Linked DNA regions of Homo sapiens. The protein of the gene in region 2 purifies or fractionates together with the protein of the main gene of each other region. This does not show direct contact. Each region holds a gene or a part of one and is shown on either strand. Other genes may lie near its edges.

Evidence for each region. Proteins that work in one complex are often made in the same cells at the same time.
Region 1: the proteins of GOSR1 (region 2) and TRDN purify together in Homo sapiens (co-immunoprecipitation; one large-scale study listed by IntAct). This does not show direct contact.
Region 3: the proteins of GOSR1 (region 2) and SCFD1 purify together in Homo sapiens (affinity purification with mass spectrometry; 2 studies listed by BioGRID and IntAct, with this or other methods). This does not show direct contact.
Region 4: the proteins of GOSR1 (region 2) and CHURC1-FNTB purify together in Homo sapiens (affinity purification with mass spectrometry, with the first as the bait; one large-scale study listed by BioGRID). This does not show direct contact.

Annotation. Positions count from the first base shown.
Region 1 is NC_000006.12:123,545,651-123,550,712, reverse strand, and holds part of TRDN (triadin), read left to right. Parts: intron 1-2,100; coding exon 2,101-2,259; intron 2,260-3,340; coding exon 3,341-3,373; intron 3,374-5,062. UniProt on the Homo sapiens protein: Contributes to the regulation of lumenal Ca2+ release via the sarcoplasmic reticulum calcium release channels RYR1 and RYR2, a key step in triggering skeletal and heart muscle contraction.
Region 2 is NC_000017.11:30,482,824-30,487,885, forward strand, and holds part of GOSR1 (Golgi SNAP receptor complex member 1), read left to right. Parts: intron 1-1,390; coding exon 1,391-1,478; intron 1,479-1,839; coding exon 1,840-1,947; intron 1,948-5,062. UniProt on the Homo sapiens protein: Involved in transport from the ER to the Golgi apparatus as well as in intra-Golgi transport. It belongs to a super-family of proteins called t-SNAREs or soluble NSF (N-ethylmaleimide-sensitive factor) attachment protein receptor.
Region 3 is NC_000014.9:30,631,557-30,636,618, reverse strand, and holds part of SCFD1 (sec1 family domain-containing protein 1), read right to left. Parts: intron 2,673-5,062; coding exon 2,582-2,672; intron 1-2,581. UniProt on the Homo sapiens protein: Plays a role in SNARE-pin assembly and Golgi-to-ER retrograde transport via its interaction with COG4. Involved in vesicular transport between the endoplasmic reticulum and the Golgi.
Region 4 is NC_000014.9:64,916,599-64,921,660, reverse strand, and holds part of CHURC1-FNTB (CHURC1-FNTB protein), read right to left. Parts: intron 1-5,062. UniProt on the Homo sapiens protein: Essential subunit of the farnesyltransferase complex. Catalyzes the transfer of a farnesyl moiety from farnesyl diphosphate to a cysteine at the fourth position from the C-terminus of several proteins having the C-terminal sequence Cys-aliphatic-aliphatic-X.

The DNA.
Region 1 (5,062 bases), on a different chromosome or scaffold from region 2:
ATTTCCCCAGAAATCCTCTCGTTCATATAATTTTTCCGCTCTCTATGAGATCTTCCCATCAGTATAAACCATGGGATATTCTTCCTATTTGAACAATGGTAAAAACAGAAAAACTCACTATGATCCTAGTTCCTCTTCTAGTATTACTCAATCTCTGTCATATGCATAAAAATATACTCACTGCCTCCAAATTTTTCTATTTTGTCTTGAATGCACTCCACTGAAATTGCTCTTTGAAGGTCATGAGTGACATCCTCGTCATCCAATCCAAAGGTCCATTCTCAGTCTTCAACTTTCTTGACCTATCCATAGCATTTTCCAGTTGATCACTCTGTCCTCCTCAAAAACAATGTATTAACCTGATATCTGGTGCATTACACTTTCTTGGTTCCTTCTCCCTCTCTCTTTCTTGCTCACTCCTGCTCTGCCTGTCACTCTCTCTGTCATCTCCCCTCTGAATCCATTGTTGGCTCCTCCCTATCTCTCTGACTTATCTCCCTGACATTTGTTAAAGTGTCTCTGGGTCAACTTCCTTGGTGATCTCACTCATTGTTATGGCTTTGATACCTTCTGTCTTCCGTTGGATTCTGAAGTTTCTGTTTTCAGTTAGAGCTTCTCTTTTGTAAATCATGTTGCATTACACAAATGTCTACATCTTGATGTAAGTATCTAATAGGCAACCCAAATTTTGAAAGTCTAAAACTCAGCTACTTTTCTACTCCCAACCCCACCCACACCCAGCAAGAATCTTGTTTCTCTCCAGTCCTCCCCCAGCTCAGAGCATTTCCTTCCTTCATTCTAGTTTCTCACACCAAAAACTTAGAAGTTATCCTGGAATTCTGTCTTTCTCTCACATCACAGCCACACTGGAAGCTTCTACTATTAATTCTGTCATTGAAATACATTCAGAATCTGATTGCATCTCACCACACACACTGTTACCACCCTGATAGAAATCATGATCATCTTTCTCTTGGATGATTTCAGTTGGCTTCATACTCATCTCCCTGTTCCCAGCCTGGCACCCTTTCAAACTTCAACACAGTAAAGGAAGTCAAATCACTTCATCTTTCTGCTCAAATCTTCCAATGACTTACTATGTTAGTCACAGTAAAAGCCTAATTAGATGTACTTAACCTTTAGGTAGTATAATACATTGATATAATTCTCATCTCTTAAATATATCAAAGAGAGAAAAATCTCTGAAAAGCTAAAATAGTTTTTAAAATTAAGGAAAACACAGCTCTAAAATTTAATTACAGCTTGATAAAAAATCAGATGCAATTTATACCATATTTCTAGATAGATCACCTCTGTAATCACATCCTAAAGGCTATGCTTGCCTCTTCAGAGCAGTTTTCATATGATTGGAAGAATAAAATTTTGGAAATCCCTAATATATTTGTTTGCATTTTTTTATGATTCAATCTTTCATTTAGCAAACATTTTATATCTCCTAGGACATAGAAAAGGGAAGACTTATAGATTCTATCCATTGAAGTTACTAGCAGTTCAAATACTTTTTTATTTCATGTACAGGGATGACTAAGATAAATCCAACCTATTCCAACTAGAGCTTGATATGATCACTAACTTGACTATTCCAGATTCTTCCTGTGGTATCACAAATTAGAATAAATGGGCCTATCAGTCTTAATTTAGCCACAACTACCTTAGTCAACTTGCAGAACTTGTTATTTGTCTGAAAACTTACAGAGTCATCTTTTCTATAATGCTGTCCCATACAATATGTGCTGAAATTATTTCTTCCATTCCTGAACATCCATAACATAGGGTTTATTTGCACTCTGGGTAACATAAATACACATTATTTTAATTCATTCCTAATTTTTTTTCCAGTGCTAACTCTTATTTGGATTATAAACTTCCCAAGGGCATTTTCTTTCTTGGCATGCATGCATATTATAGCAAGATGAAGTTTCTATTTCTGCGCAAAAAATTGTAGCCAGGAGATATTTAGAATGTTGAAATTGACATATTCTTTTTGTCAAAACAACAAATCAGTAAAAACAGCTTTTCTTAAGTTATTTGGAAATGATCACAAACTTTTTCTTTTTTTTTTTTTTTAATTACTTTTAGCAAGCTCTATTGCCAAGATTGGCTCAGATCCTTTAAAACTGGTACGTGATGCTATGGAGGAAACCACGGACTGGATCTATGGCTTCTTTTCTTTGTTATCTGACATCATCTCATCTGAAGATGAAGAAGATGATGATGGTGACGAAGATACTGATAAAGGTACAAAGAACATAGAGATATATCTAACTGCTAGGAGCAACATTAAATATGTATTATAGTGGCTTGCCTCAGTTTAAATTCAAATGAGCACTTGGGTCAAGCTAAACCAAAATGAATACACTTCTGACTGCTAAAAGCATATCAACAGGCTGCCAAACACAGTAAATTGTTCTTTATTTAATTTTCATCTTATAGCTTATCTACCATTATGGCAAAGATGTCAAAATTAAATGTTAATATTAATGTAGCATTACAGCAAAGGGAGTCTCATTATGCTCTGCTATAAAACCACAATACAAACTCACATTTATATGCTTCTTTGGAAAAAATAGTTATTTTTCAAGTTTATCTCTAGGAAGATTAAAATAAAAACAGTAAAACTAAAAATACATATAAGTGTTTTATACACATATGTCATATTTATAGTCAAATAGCAGAAAGCAATCTTACTAAAAGTACAATCAAAAGAGTAAATTTATTGGACCAAATGGTGGTGTAGAATAGAAGGACACATTCTAAATGTCCTAACAATTATGCAACTAACCTATGTGCTCTCTCATATATATTAATGAATAAAAGGAAATAGCCATCTCAAACCACATAAAAGCTGCCATTGAATGAGTATGAAAAGAACAAAGCACTGTGATTCCATCTATTAGATAACACTTTTTAGGGTCAGTCTTAGTCATCAGAAATCATGTATTCAGCCTTGACTACCAGGAAAGCTTTTATTATTAGAGTATTTTTATAACTTTTCCTGAAATTATATTTGTTTTGGCCCCAGTAAGAGTTCAACATGAACAATAGAGAGTTGAAATTAATATGATATATAACCTATAATGTATAATTTGGATCACTGCCACAATTTTATTGAATTCATAAAAATGAAACAATCTTATATAAATGTATATAAACAAACTTTATACTTAAAAACTGGAATTTGGGAAGCAAAGTAATGTAAAGACTATGATTGTTAAAACTAATAGATTTTTTTAAATAAACAAAAGGGGAAAATAATGATGTCATATTATTCTATGCTAAAATATTTTCTAACTTTGTTTTTCTTTTAATCTTGGTCTAGGAGAAATAGATGAGCCTCCCTTGAGAAAAAAAGGTTAGTTGTTTTCACCTTTGATAATAATTATTTTTCTCTTATGGTAATATTGGTTTTCAGCATGGTTCAAATATATTTTACTTATTTTAATATAAAGGTTTTGTTTAATAATTAGGTCAAGATTTATAGTCAGAAAAAAAATACTCAATTTCTTTTCCAATGAAGGTGATCTCACTACTTTTCTGTTGATTATTTTTTAAATGCCTTATTCAGTAGATTTGTATGGATTCATTTATACACAGACCAATATGAGCTGGAATTTGAGGAATGAGGGGAGAATTCTGTAGCCTTAGAAATGGCCCAGAAAATGACACCCATGATTTATTCTCACCATGGTCAGATTTATTGATTTTAAATGTTTATTCTTATTCTTTTCCTTTTATTTTTTTTGCCATCATTATTTTGCATGTTAGGTGATGACTATGGGCCAGGACAACAAGACGGTGAGGGACATAACAGCCTAGGAGGCAAAGGCATATCCAGTTGGTATGTGTGATGTGTCACTGTCATGGAGTGGAGTTACCTGGATGTGCCTGGATGTGCTGTAGAGGAATTACTTGCAGGAATAGATAAGGTGACTGAGTGAAGTGGTCACAACCTGAATGATAAGAACGATAAACCTAGGACAAAGGAGGACAGCAATGGGGCAGGAATTTCAGAAGACAGAGATTTTGACAGGAAGGGGTAGGAACTGCATCTGGAAGGGGCACTGGGGAGCAGGTAGTACCATCTTGAGGTACATTTGTTGTGAGAAAACAGCCAACATTCAAGCCAGACTTAAAACAATTGCAGTGTTTTAGTTACTGCTACACATGGGCAGGCTGTTGAGGGTTTACCCAGGAAGATAACCCTGGCTTCTGTTGCTCTCTCCTAATACCTACTGTGGATTCAAACAATGGGATCCAAACTTACAGTTTCAGCCTTCCCTGAGAAAATGATGACTACCCCACACTATCTGGGGTAAAATCCACTTAGTGTATGTTAAATTAGAAACTTTGGATTTGTAACTTACACAGCAAAAAAGAGCTAAGCCAGTCAAACTCAACTATGGCAAAGGCATCCAGAAATGAAAGTGTTTATAAAGCTCTGTGAGGAGAAAGGAAGGGTTTATACACCTGCAAATCCAGAATGAGAACTCAAGTACTCAAGACAGACTTCAGCCATCAAATCCAGGTTTAGAGATTCTAGATTTGTCTATAAACTTCAAGAGATTTATAGCTGATTTCCCATAGAGAGTGAACATAGTCAAGCTTTAAGTGAGTTATTAGTCATTATCTGGAAATAACAGCTTATGCACGTTTATTTTCATTGGAAATGGAAGAAGGGAAAACAGATAAATAATGTTTGCTCATTTATACTTATAAACTGAATTCCATAAGACTATTATAAAGCCATGTTTTTCATAAATTGATATTTACTATTTAATAAAAAATCTTTTCTTTTGATTTAAATTTTTCTTTGAAATTATTTTAAAATTAAGCTTCATATAGTAATTAGTATAAACTGCAAATTCATACAAAGCTGTTTTACTATTGTTTCTTAAATTATTTCCTTGATTCAGCAAATCAAATTTTTGCCAGAAAAACTATTAAATAGTTGTTTAGGGTACTTTTAAAAAATGTTAGAAATGTTTATTAGTCAAAAATAGTCTAAGGGATATATGTCCTTCAACACATGTGCACTAATGTC
Region 2 (5,062 bases):
ATGAAGAATGTTCTTTCTATGCATTTTCTATGTTCTGTGTGCTTCATGAACTAATACTTTTGTTATTCCTCTAAAGGAAAAACTATCTTGAAAACATTTCCCAAGAAATTCTACCACAAACTGAAACTGGCTTTGTAGAATTACTTCAGCCTAACTCCCCTTCTAAATAAAAACCTAAGGCCATGAGGATCAGGATTTGATGTCTATTCTAAAGTGTCTTGTTTGATGCCCAGGTTGGAAGCATGTCACTATGAGTCAACTAAGCAATAACTAGAATATTATTTATTCCAGGCATCTTTCTTTCTTTTTTTTTTTTTTTTTAACTTTCTGTATTTTGAGAACTTCAAGGTCTATGAATCATTACCCACCTATAAGATGAATTAAATTTAACTGAATCCCAGTATTGTGAAGAATTAGTGTTTGGCCATTTCCCTTTACTCTTACACTGTCCTGATGAATATATGAATACAATGAGTATAGAATAACCAGTAGTAGAGATTGCTCTCGTGTTCATTCATTTATTCAGCAGAAGTTTAATGAGCATCTACTATGTGCCAGGCTGTATACTAGGTGCTAGGCATATATCTATGAATAAGACAGAGCAGTTTTTTCCTTCCTTCATGAAGCTTTAATTCTATTGGCATATTGTTCTTTTTCATATATCTGGTAGAGGAGGATTTATATTAGTAGTCTACAGAGCATTTATTTAATACTTTTCATTTGCCACACCCAGGCACTGTCACAGGGTAGCACAAAGTCTTCAGTAAGATTGGAGACTATAGTCATTGCCTGGGCATTTATCTGTGTCCAGTATAACTCTGATCTGTATTGAGCTGCTCATCAGATGCTAATACATACCTAACCTGATGAAGGTTAGTGGTGTTTTGGAAAAGGCAAAAGAAACACTGAGGACAGGTGGGTTTAGAATTTGAATCTGTCAAACCTAAGTTTCACTTGTAAAAAGATAGATTTTTGACTATTCAGATTTGAAAAGGCAATTTAACACAATTCTACAAAACAAAAGGATGATTGCATACTGTAAGTGAAAATGGAGAAGATTAGTACCAAAGCATGCAGGACATGGCTGTATATATTGGATTTAAAGCCAGTTCCTGAGTATTCGTTAGCTAGTTATCCAATCTGTGGATCATTTAAACCTCAATCTTATTTCCTCTTGGTAAGAGTCAAGGAAAGAAGAGAGAATGTAATGTTGAGGTTGAAGGAACCATAATTCCTTTGGGGTAAAAATGTAAAAGATCGTTTCTCACAGACCCTATATAACATAATCCATAATTCATTTTATGGCTCCTATTAATCACCTTATTATTTTAAGTATGTTTTAAAGGACTGATTTGAGTAATGGATCCTCTTTAACTGAACTTCTTTTTAGTTCTGATACAACACCCCTTTTAAATGGATCAAGCCAAGACAGAATGTTTGAGACAATGGCGATTGAGATTGAACAACTTTTGGCAAGGGTAAGTGCTTTCTGTTAAATGGCTATTTTGCAAATAACTGTATACTTGTTACGTAGGATCCTGGATTATATTGAGACAGACATGTTTATTGAAATTATCCATTCCATTCAATATGTGTACCTCCCCACACCACTTGAATTTTGATGACAGCCATTCTCAGGTGATATGATGTTATTTTGGTCTTTATGGATTATGTGGGGGAATGCTGAATTCTTACTTGCTCTCTTGTTTGTTTTTTGTTTTGTTTTGTTTTGTTTTGTTTTGCTGTCAACCAAAAGGGCATATAGGCAAATAATTTGCTTTTAGCTGTTTATAGTGCTTAGTAAAATATTTTGATTGTTTTTTTTTTCTTTATTTCTAGCTTACAGGGGTAAATGATAAAATGGCAGAATATACCAACAGTGCAGGTGTCCCCTCCTTGAATGCAGCCCTGATGCATACATTACAGCGGCATAGAGACATATTGCAGGTAATATATTGGGCTCGAGATGTTTTCATTATCACAGGAGTTTGGGTTTTTTTTTTTTTAATCCCTGCATTGGATATGTGCACATATATTTAAAAGGACAAAGAGAAAAATCTGAGAAAATAAATGCCATGCTAAAGGGACTTGTTTTACTTTTTTTTGGGGTCACCATTATAAAATTCTGAAAATATCTAATAGCTCTTGCTATTTCTTGGCGAAGTTGAGTAATATTCATCACTGGGTACATATACTTCCACTATGGGAGACCTAGCTAGCTAGCTGTAACAGTGAAATAGCCAATGGTCATGTATAGACAATAACGTGGTGGGTAAGCGTGTACTTTCAGCTAGCTTTGAAGATAATATGGAGGGGGAATTATTTACTATACTTAGTATATTGTTTAAGAAAACAGTAAATGTGTATGCACCAATAAAACTAAATAAACTTTTAAAGATTTAAATGGAGGATATGTTAAAAATATGGTAGTACAAATAGGAAGGCAATTTTTTTTTTTTTTTTGAGATAGGGTTTCTCTGTCACTCAGGCTGGAGTGCAGTAGTACAGTCACAGCTCACTGCAGCCTCAACCTCCCAAGCTCAAACAAGCCTCCTACCTCAGCGTCCTGAGCATCTGGGACCACAAGCACATGCCACCACGCCTGGCTAATTTTTTAAAAGCTTTTGCAGAGACAGGTCCTTGCCATGTTTCCCAGGCTGGTCTCTAACTCCTGTGTTCACGAGGTTTTGCTATATTGCCCAGGCTGGTCTCTTAACTCCTGTGTTCACAGGTTTTTGCTATGTTGCCCAGGCTGTTCTCTTAACTCCTGTGTATGGGCAATCCACCCCCTCAGCCTTCCAAAGTGCTAGAATTATAGGCATGAGCCGCTGTACCCAGCCACAAATATTTTTAATATTGAGAAAAGTCAGCAACTATTTCTAATTTTAAAAACTGTTTTTAAAAGTAGGAATAGATGGCCGGGCGCAGTGGCTCGTGCCTGTAATCCCAGCACTTTGGGAGGCCAAGGCAGGTGGATCACCTGAGGTCAGGAGTTGGAGACCAGCCTGGCCAACATGGCGAAACCCTGTCTCTACTAAAAGTATAAAAATAAGCTGGGCATAGTGGTGGGCGCCTGTAATCCCAGCTACTTGTGAGGCTGAGGCAGGAGAAGCTTGAACCCAGGAGGCGGAGGTTGCAGTGAGCTGAGATTGCACCACTGCACTCCAGCCTAGGCTACAAGACTGAGACTCCATCTAAAAAAAAAAAAAAAAAAAAAGTAGGAATAGAAAGATACTTTAATACAAAAATGTATTATCGGGTTAAAAGCTAGCATTGTGTTTAAAGAGAAAGCAATAAAAACATTCCCATTGTATGAAACAAGACAAGGATACCCATGATCGCTACAAATGTATAACGTTGTTTTTTAAGTTCTTGATGGTGCAATTAGACAGTAAAAAGAAATGAAATGTATGCTGGGCATGGTGGCTCACACCTCTTATCCAAGCACTTTGGAGGTCTGAGGTGGGCGGATCATTTGAGGTCAGGAGTTGGAGACCAGCCTGGCCAGCAGGGTGAAACCCCTTCTCTACTAAAAATACAAAAATTAGCGGGGCGTGGTGGTGGGTGCCTGTTATCCCAGCTACTTGGGAGGCTGAGGCAGGAGAATAGCTTGAACATTGAACCTGGGAGGTGGAGGTTGCAGTGAGCCGAGATTGCACCACTGCACTCCAGCCTGGGCAACAGAGTGACTGTTTCAAAAAAAAAAAAAAAGATGTAAATATTGGAAAGGAAGAGGCAAAATTTCTGTGAGGTAGCAGGATAAAATTATATGTCTAGTACACGCAAGAAAATTACCTGATAAAAAGTTAGAAACAATTAAATTCAGTAAGATGGTAGATCACAAAATGAATACATAAAAGCAAATAGTTTTCCTATTATGATAGGAAATAAATGATAACCTGTTAGAAAATACAATGGAAGAAACTATAAAGCATTTATATATGAATTAAATAAGAAATGTGTAGGACTTGTATGTGCAGAATTCTACTGAGGGACATAGAACAAGATTTAAGTAAAGGAAAGAATCATTCTGTTTTTGGATAGGAAGACTTTCGTCTAAATTGCATGACATCCCAGTGGAAACAGCAGGGTTGTATCGTTGTTTGTTTAATTAAAAACAAATGACATAATGACACCAAAGTTCATTTGGAATCATAGACATACAAGAACAACCAAGAAAAACAACCTGAAAATGAAGATAAGTGGTAGAGGGTTCCTAGTTCTACCAGATCTTAAAACCTGTTAAAAAGCTGGAATAGTTAAGACAGTTTGATACTAGAGAAAAAAAATAAATAAATAAAAACAATTAAACAGAGTTTATATGTAGACCCAATTATGTTTGGAAATTTTTAGTTTCTGATAAAGATGTTGTTTAAAATCAGTGGGGCAAAGAGAAATTATAAAATAAATGGAACTATAACCATTGCTTAATTATTCAGAGATTTTAAAAAAACAATTCTATCTCAATCCTCACATCCAGAACAAATTCCAAATGGATCCAAGAAGGATAGAAAAAGAAACCATAAAGCAGAGGTGAAATTTGTAAACTTTGGAGCAGAAAGGACTTTCTAAATAAGACTTGATACTGGAAACCATAACGAATGGCTAATTTGCTTACTACACAGAGATATAATAGAAATAAGAAAAAGACAGTAGGAAAATGGACAAAGGATATAAAATTGCTTACAAAAAAATGAATGGCCAAAACTATAAAAACATTTTCAGCAGTATTTCCAAATAAAAATACAGAAATCTAAAAGAGGTGATTTTTCACATGTCAGATTAGCAAATGTTGAAACATTTATAACCCATTATTGGCAAGAGTAAAAATTTAAAAAGGGTACTCATATATTGCTGGTGGGAACATAAATTGATGTAATGTTTATAGAAGGCAGTTTAGCACTACCAGAATTTAAATGAATGTGAGATTCTTTGATCCAGTTATTCTTTTTTTTTTTTCTTGAGACGGAGTCTCGCTCTGTTGTCCAGGCTGGAGTATTGGAGTGCAATGGTGCGATCTCGGCTCACTGCAGCCTCCACGTCCTGGGTTCAAGCGATTCTT
Region 3 (5,062 bases), on a different chromosome or scaffold from region 2:
ACACTGTGTGGTACAGGCATAAGGAAAGACATAGATATCAATGCAATAGAACTGAGAGTTCAGAAATCAAACAAGATATCTGTGGTCAGCTGATTTTTGACAAGGCTGCCAAGACCATTCACTAGGGAAAGAATAGTCTCTTTAATAAATTACGCTGGGACAACTGGATAGCCACATGCAAAAGAATAAAGTTGGACACCTACATCCCACCATATATAAAAATAATGCAAAGGGGAATCAAGACCTACAGGTAAGAGCCAAAACTATAAAATTCTTAGAAGAAAACACAAGAATCTGGAATGGTTTCCTAAATATGACACCAAAAGCATAAGCAACTCAAGAAAAAAAAAAACCGATAAACTGGGCTTCATCAAAATCAAAAATGTTTGTGCTTCAAAGGACATTATCCAGAGAATGAAAAGATAACCCATAGACTGGGAGAAAATATTTACAAATCATAAACTTGTGAGTGTCTAGTATCCAAAACAGAAAAAGAATTCTATCAACTCAACAATAAAAAGACAACCCAATTAAAAACTGGGTGAATGATCTGAATAGATATTTCTAGAAAGACATACAAATGGCCAATAAGCATGTTAAAAGATGCTTAATATCATTAATTACAGAAATGCAAATCAAAACTATAATGAGATGCCACTTCAAACCTATTAGGATGGCTACAATAAAAATATCGGATAGTAAGTGTTCAGCAAGGATCTGGAGAAATCAGAACCCTCACACACTACTGGTGGGAATATAAAATGGTGCAACCACACTTCGCAAAACAGTCTATTACTAAAAAGGTAAACATAGAGTTATCATTTGACCATGCAATTTTATTCCTATGTGTTTACGGCCACAAGAGAATTGAAAACATGTCCACAGAGAAACCTGCACATGAATATTTATGGCAACATTATTAATAGCCAAAAGGTAGAAACAATCCAAATGTCCATCAAGTGGTAAAAGGATGAATAAAATTTCGTACATCCATACAATGGAATATATTCAGCCACGAAAAGGAATAAGGTACCAATTCATGCTACAATATGGATGAACCTTGGAAACATTATGCTAAGAGAAATCAGCCATATACAAAAGACCACATATTATAGGATTTCATTCATATGTAATGGTCAGAGTAGGCAAATATACAGAAACAGAAGGTAGCTTAGGGATGGAAGAGGATGGGGGAGGGTTGAGGATGTGATAAATGGTACCAGGTTTCTTTTTGAGGTAATGACAATGTTCTAAAATTGACTGTGGTGATGGTTGCAAAACTCTGTGACTATATTAAAAACCAATGAACCATACACTTGTGCTCCTTAAATGTGTGAATTGTATGGTATGTAAATTATAATTTCAATAAAGGTGTTATTTAAATAATGAAAGAAGAAGAGATTGCAAGTGGTACCTCTTTCATGAATAGCATACTTGAGTTTACGCAGGGTAAAAGAGAAAGCTGGGCATCATAAAGCTACACAGGACACAAAATTTGCAAACGTCACTAACAATTTAAATAGCAATTTGATTCAACAGTCAATAACAAAGATGTTGTGACTTGTGGAAGACACTGTTACTTACCTATCCAATATCTACTTTTCTCCTTTTCCTTGCTAAAAGAATCTTGCTAGATTTTCTTTGGGGTGACTCATCTAAATATTGACTTTTGCAGCCACCCTTGTAACTGATTCTACCTAGTGAGAAATAAATAAAGGTCTTCTGGGAGTTTCTGGAAAGGCTTAAATTCCTGATCAAAATCAACAGTCAGGGCTGGCACAGTCCATGTCCCTCTTCTTGTTGATGTGAACATAGATTTGATGCCTACAGGCGCAGCGACAAGCAAGACAAGGAAAACCAACAAACTAAAGACGAATGATCAGCGACAGAAGGAGCCTGGGTCTTTGATTACCTTATAGTACTTCTGCACCAGTGTGGACTTCCTAATCTCACCCTTATTTTAGAAAAGGAAAACCCTATATAAGTTAGAAAGGCAATATACCTAGGCTTTCTGTTTGTTAAAGCCAGACTCAGACTTTACCAGTACAGTGGTTGCCCTTATTTGCAGGGGTTATTTTCCAAGACTCCAGTGGATGCCTGAAACCAGGTAGTACTGAACCGTATATGTTTTTTCCTATACATACATATTTATGATAAAACTTAATTTATAATTTATAAATTGGGCACGGTAAATGATTAGCAACAATAGCTAGAAATAAAATAGAGCAATTATAAAATATATTCTGTAATGAAATATATTACAGAAAATATATTCTGTAATGAAAGTTATATGAATGTGGTCTCTCAAAATACTGTAATATATTCAGTACCTGGTTAACTGTGGATAACTGAAACTGTGGAAAGTGAAACTGTGGACATGAGAGGACTACTGTATAATACTTCTTCAGCCAAAAGTTTTAAGTCTTTCAGGCTATTTGGAATTCAAAGATAGTCTCAAAAATCAGAGTGAGAAAGTAGGCATAGGAATTTCTGATTTTTCACCCTGGACATCTAGGAATTTTTCTTGAAAAAAAAATCCATTTCCAAATTCAGGAGTCCAGAAAATAAGAACCCATATTACCTGGCACATTCTGTCAATATTTTCTTCAGTTGGCATTACAAAGTATACTGCAGGAACATCTGGAATAGGATCTCGATCAGAGTGTAAAAGCCTAGAAGACATAAGGAACTAAAACTTATTTTTTTATTCACTTATTTAAAACAATATTCCTCAAAATGGGAGTTCACTAGCTCAAGGACAGTAACCAGTGCTCTAAAAGCTCTTGTTGCAATTAATCAGTGAGTTAACCTATCTTTCTCCCATGTCAGTGTTGTTATTATTTATTAGCATTAGTAAGACCCTAATTTCTTGTTAGTCTTCATTTGTTCTATTCTGCTCACACTTTTAGCACTGCTTATGGTCAGACATTCTTTTCTACCAACACTCTCCTTGAATGAGAACTAAAACATATTCAGAATCAATCTTATTCCCACTTTTCATAGAAATGTGGTGGTCAGAGGGGAAGGGTGAATGTGAGGAAAGTGTGGCTCTCTGAGGGGAAAATCAGAAAGCTAGGGGACGCAATGAAAAAAATTTTAGAAGCAATTCTTTAGAAGCTATAAAAAAATTTAACCAAACATGAAATCAAATATATTTTTTAAATGAAAGGTATATAAATGTTTCCTTAAAAATTAAAGACAATCTATTTTTGTCTATTTATTGTTTCATAAGAGAATGTAAGCATCTTATAGATTAAGTCATTTTACAGTTTTCTCCTTTTACAATTTAGGAACAATTTCCATACAAATATCCCAACATCAAACCATGCTTATATGAGGAATATTCACCTCTCTCTAGTCATCCTTCTATAATCAAGGAGAGAGAGGAAAGAGGCACATGCTGCCAGTGAGTCTGTGTTTAATAACTGTTGCCACTGATATCAAGAATGATAATGTGATGGCTGCCATAGGTTGTGGTCTTTTTCACACTGCTTGTCCAACTGTCTAATGGGCTACAACCACCATTTCATACTGTGGAAACTTGTAATTACTGTTTCCTACAAATTAGCCTAAACCAGCTTGCAGGGTATAAAGTAACTGATACAGTATTCTCCAGCAAATAGAGGAGAATGGTTGGAGGCAAAGTACACAAGAGTTCACCATGGTAGCTGTGTAATATTTCCATGCTCTGGTGGCAAGTAGCAAGTTAGGCAGAGATTACGAGACTCTCAAACTGGTAGACTATCCTATTACCCCTGAATGAAGTACTGAGTAAGGCCTCACTTCTGTTAGTTACTGTTACTGAGCCATTACAGTTCAGTAGATAAACAGCACAGAATTAGTGGTCAAGCAATGTGGCCATGGCTCTGTTATTAACTGGTTGTACAAATGTGAGACAATCACTTAAGCCTTCTAAACTTCAGTCCTTCCATTAGTAAATAAAGGAGTTAAACACTTAGTACAGAGACAATGGCACTCAATGTTTATTAATAAACCACAATTTCCAAGGATAGCATGAAGTTAAACTTTACTTCAGTCCATAAAAATTAACACATTATCAAAGCAAACCTGCTTATTTCAGTCTGACATAAAAATGAAAGGAAAACTCATCAAATACCGTATTTCATGAAACCCAAGGTGGTAACAATTTTAAAACATAATTTTTAAAATATATTTTATATACTACTGAGAAATAAAAATGCTGCCAGTTATGACATATCATCAGTGATAAGATAGATCCTAATTTCAGAAATGTAAAAAAGGACATTTGGAATTGACAAACTATAACAGTCTATTAACAAATGCTCATTATACAACTGAAGAATTTGAGCTGATTAAACCAGATTCTGTCAAGTTACTTATCGAAAATCTAAAACTATATTCCCAGTAAGAGTACATTTCAATTCAATATATGATATCATAAAAATTGGTTATAACATCATAAATAGAACAAAATGCAAATAGCTTAGAACACCATAAAATTGGACTCTTTTAGTATACAGAAGTATTAGTATCTATCCATGAACACAGTCCTTCTCCAAACGTTCTTTTTTTTTTTTTTTTTTTTTTTTTCAACAGAATCTTGCTCTGCTGCCCAGGCCAGAGTGTAGTGTCACGATCTCGGTTCACTACAACCTCTGCCTCCTGGGTTCAAGCAATTGTCCTTCCTCAGCCTCCCAAGTAGCTAGGATTACAGGTGGGTACGCCACCATGCCCAGCTAATTTTTGTACTTTTAGTAGAGACGGGGTTTCACCATGTTGGCCAGGCTGGTCTCGAACTCCTGACCTCAAGTGATCCGCCCACCCGGGCCTCCAGAAGTGCTAGGATTACTGGCATGAGCCACTGTGCCTGGCCCCTTCTCCAAATGTTCTACTAGGCAAGCCCATAAAGTACTGCATTTGTTTTATTTTTATTAAACATATCAGAAGCAATATAATCACACAAACTTAACAGTTAAGACAACACAGATAGCCCACTATGGTGATTAACAGTCATTACTTCATAGTCACTTAAATTTTTCATATTAATGATTAATTAGATATTCCTTTTTTTTAAAAAAAT
Region 4 (5,062 bases), on a different chromosome or scaffold from region 2:
ATACTAGGTACTGCTTTTTATTTTTGCCATTCAGTGACGTAAAGTGGTATCTCATTGTAGTTTTAACTTTTGTTTCCTTGATGACTAATGATGTTGAGCATCTTTTCATGGTGCTTATTCATGTATCTTCTTTTATGAAATGTCCATTCAAGTCTTTTGCCCATTTTCAAAAAGTTAGGTTGTTTATTTTGAGTTGTAAGAGTTCTTTATATATCTTAGATACAAGTTTTTTCCCAAATATATTTTCTCCGTCATTGATTTGCCTTTTTTGATGGTTTCTTCTAATGAGCAAACAAGTTTTGATTTTCATAAAGTCCAATTTAACATTTTTTCTTTTATAATTTATACTTTTTTTCTCCTAAGACATCTCTGCCTACCCCAGGGTTGCACAAAGTTTCTTACATTTTTTTCTAGAAGTTTTATAGCTTTTAGTTTGTAGATTTAGGTTTATAATCCATTTTGAAATAATTTTATATATGAGGTAAGGATCAAGGTTTATTTAGTTGCGTATGGATTTCCAGTTGTTTTGGCAAGATTTGTTGAAGAACTGTCTTTCCCCCCACTGAATTACAATGGTGCTTTTGTAGAAAAAAGTCAATGACCATATATATGTGGGTCTGCTTTGACTATTCTGTTCCCTTGATACATATATCTACCTTCCCACTAATATCAAACTCTCTTGATTACTATAGTTTTTATAGTTAGTCTTTAAATCAGGTAGTTTATGTCCTATAATCTGGCTATTCTTGGTTCTTTTCAGTTTCATGTAAATTTTAACATGAGCTTACACACTTTACAAAAAAGTCTACTGGAGTTTGAATTGGGACTGCCTGGAATCTATAAAATCTGACTGCCAAGGACTCCAAAAAATTAAGGAAAACAAAACAGTTTTTAAAAAGATCTAAATGCCAATTTCAAATAAATATAACTCTGAACTGGACTGCATCCACAGACACAGGTTCCTTGCACAACGTGGCCTAGCCTCTGTAATCTGACCATGAAAGTAGGCTGAATGTGAGTCTAAGAAAACACTGAAGGAAGAGAAGTATCTATGTATCTGTTGTCTGGTAAGTAAATGCTTCAAATGGCAAAATACAAGTACAGTATATAAGAAGCGGATGGGACTTTCTTTAAGAGCCCTGGTCATTTGAAAGCAGCAAGAGTAACCTTCATCAGTGAGGCACAGTTCTTTTATTAGATGAGGCAAGACTATTAACATCCAAATTTGGGAAAGTAAACTAAAGCACACATTATTCAGGGAAGGTTTTCAGGCTCCCATAATAGGTGGAAAAGAATGCAATTCAAATCAATTCCACAATAATAACAGTAGACCATAACAGCTTAAAGAAGGAAAAAAGTCGACATGTTTAGTACCCTTAGAAAATCTGATTCAGATAAATCCTGGTTAAGGATTTGTAAAGGTATACAAGTGTGCAAGAAGAAATGGCTGAAAACTGTAAGAATAATTAATATGAGAGTATGTTATAAAATCTTACGAGAAAGCTGTAATTATTCTGATAAAGACTGGATCAATTTTTTTTCCAGCAAATTATTTCAGATGATACAAGTTAATAGCTAATGTATATATTTTGCCAGGGAATGTTTAAAAATGGAAAATACGGTTTTTCTTAAAGAACCAATTTTTTGTTTCATTGATTTTCTCTACTGTATTCTCTCAGTATTTTCTACTCTGATCCTTATTATTTCCTTCCTTCTGCTTGCTCTGGGTTTAGTTTGCTCTTTTTTTTCCATTGTCTTTTTCTTTTTTTTTCTTTTTGAGACATGGTCTCACTCTGTCACCCAGGCTGGAATGCTGTGGCGCAATCTTGGCTCACTGCAACCTCCGCCTCCTGGGTTCAAGTGATTGTCTCACTTCAGCCTCCCAAGTAGGTGGGACTACAGGCACACAAAACCATGCCAGGCTAATTTTTGCATTGTTTGGTAGAAACAGGGTTTCACCATGTTGGCCAGGCTGGTCTCAAACTCCTGACCTCCAGTGATCTGCTAGCCTCGGCCTCCGAAGGTCCTGGGATTACAGGCGTGAGCCACCATACCTGGCCCATTTTTCCATTGTCTTAAGTGGAAGGTTAGGTAATTGATTGAAAAGTATACTTTTTAAATATAGGCACTTATAACTATAAATTTTAAGATGCAGAGTATCATTTTAAGGCACTCTTACATACAACTGTTTTGCTAATTATATATTACTCAGCATTTAATTAAATCTGGTTCAATGTTATCTACTAAGCAACAACTTGAATATATGAAGTTTGGTAGCTTAGCTTTAAATGACAAATACAAAACAAGTAATTTTAAACATATCACTAACATTGATTTTTTCCCACTGATTCATAATGTATTTCTGTATTCCTGTTGCATTACTAACAAAATTTCAAGCTGAAATTAAAATATATGAAATGTTTCATTTCCAGTTTGATATGAAAAATATTTGATTACAATTTTGTGCCTGTTCAGTAATTTTAGAAAATGTAGTAGAGTTCTAGTTCTGACTGGTTTGCTAAATGCTTTTCTGAAGGAAAAAAAAAATGTGGTTCACCATTGAGTTAAAAAACATTTGGGTTCAGAAAATTAGTATGGTTCATTCCAACTTGACTCATGTTTGAATTCAAATTCTCAGTGTTAACAGTATAAGCAAGTAGGCCAGAGCCCCATTAAGAATTCAGTACTATATATTTCTAGTCTGTAAAAATAAATGACAAAACTCCAAACAACTTTATGTAATCGAAGATAAATAATTAACTATTACTTACTCATTCTACACTTAGAGCTTCCCAACAAATGATTTTTTGTTTGTTTGTTTTTTTAAGTAGACAGGGTTTTGCTCTGTTGCTCAGGCTGGAGTGCAGTGGTGTGATCTTAGCTCACTGGAGCCTCGAACTCCTGGGTTGAGGGAATCCTCCTGCCTTAGCCTCTTCCCAAGTAGGTGGAACTATAGGCACACACCACCACGCCTGGCTAATGTTTTTTAATTTTTAATAAGGATGGGGTCTCACTATGTAGCCCAGGCTGGTCTCAAACTCCTGGGTTCAAGCCATCCTTGTGCCTCGGCTTCCCAAAGTGTTAGGATTACACGTGTGAGCCACTAGGCCCGGCCCACCATCTTCTTATTACCCTTCCCTTTGCTAAGCTTCTGCAAAGCTGAGCAAAGCAGTGGGCTTCTGCTCTTACTGCACTTAAAAATAGGTCATGACTTCAAAGAACCCCAGAGTTGGAAGGATCCTTGACATTCCAAATGGTCAGTTAGTCTCTACTGAACAATAGGAAGAGAGCTTAATTCCTTTAAGAGTTACTCATTCCATTTTGAAATGTCAGAATGTTCTTTATTCTGATTCAAAGTCTAAGACCCGTAACATCCACCCACTAATTATTTCTAAATCTGCCTTCTAAAATTCCAAAGAAAAGTTTAATTCTTCTTCATGACAGTCTTTTAATTATTTTAGAACAGAATAAAATCAGAGAAAAGTGCCTTTGAAAGGCACTCTCCTGGTTTTCCAATCACCTCGATCCCTTTTTCTACTATTCTTCCTTATACTTTATTTTCATTTCTGAAGTTAATTTAGTCTTTGGAGCTCAGTCCTTGATTCTCTACATTTTTTTCCTCAGAGAACAAATCCTATTTTGACACTTGTATTTGACTGACTCATCTATCTACATAGTTGTACCCAAACTGCAGTCTTATATCTTCACTTGACCCTTCGGATATTCTCAACCTCAGGTGAAGCATGATATTAATAACAATTTGACCATTTGTCCCCAATTTTGTTTTTTCTTCCCATATGCCTCCAATTTCTGTAATGATACTTCCAACATCCCAGTTGCCTAGATTGAAAATCCTGAGATCATGTGATCATGTATAGGTCTCCCCTTATTCACTTCTACATTAAACAGGTTGAATCTTGTTAATTCTTTTTTTTTTCAACAGGGTCTCGCTCTGTTGCCCAGGCTGGAGTGCAATGGCACGATCATGGCTCACTGCAACCTCCCACCTCAACCTCCAAGTAGCTAGGACTACAGGTGCATGCCACCACGCTTGGCTAATATTTGTGGTGGTTTTTTTTTGTTTGTTTATTTGTTTTGAGACGGAGTTTTGCTCTTGTCACCCATGGTGGAGAGCAGTGGTGTGATCTCGGCTCACTGCAACCTCTGCCTCCCAGGTTCAAGCGATTCTACCGCCTCAGCCTCCCAAGTAGCTGGGATTACAGGCGCCTCCCACCACACCCAGCTAATTTTTGTATTTTTAGTAGAGACGGGGTTTCGCCATGTTGGCCAAGCTGGTCTCGAACTCCTGACCTCAGGTGATCTGCCAGCCTTGGCCTCCCAAAGTGCTGGGATTATAGGCGTGAGCCACCGTGCCCAGACTATTTGTATTTTTTGTAGAGACAGGGTTTTGCCATGTTTGAGACTGGTCTCAAACTCCTGGGCTCAAGTGATCCACCTGCCTTGGCCTCCCAAAGTGCTGGGATTACAGGTGTGAGAACCGTGCCCAACCTAATTCTTTCTTTGAAATAAGGTCTTCATTATCTCATGCCTACACCACTGTTGCCATGGCTCCTCAAATGCCCTGTGGAGTTCTGTCTTTACACACCCTCTACCCCACCATTTCAACATTCAGCCATAAGATTCATTTTCCTAAATAACAGATTTCAGAATCATTTCTCTATTAAAATTTTGATGGTGGCCCAATGCCTAAAATGTAAACTCTAAACTTCTCAATATGACTTTTAAGTTTTACAATAACTCCACTCTTAAGAATCCAACCTAAGGCCCGGCGCGGTGGCTCACGCCTGTAATCCTAGCACTTTGGGAGGCCGAGGCAGGTGGATCACGAGGTCAGGAGATCGAGACCATCCTGGCTAACAAGGCGAAACCCTGTCTCTACTAAAAATACAAAAAAATTAGCTGGGCATGGTGGTGGGCACCTGCAGTCCGAGCTACTCGGGAGGCTGAGGCAGGAGAATGGCATGAACCAGTGAGGCGGAGCTTGCAGTGAGCCGAGATCATGCCACTGCACTCCAACCTGGGCGACAGAGCAAGACTCCAT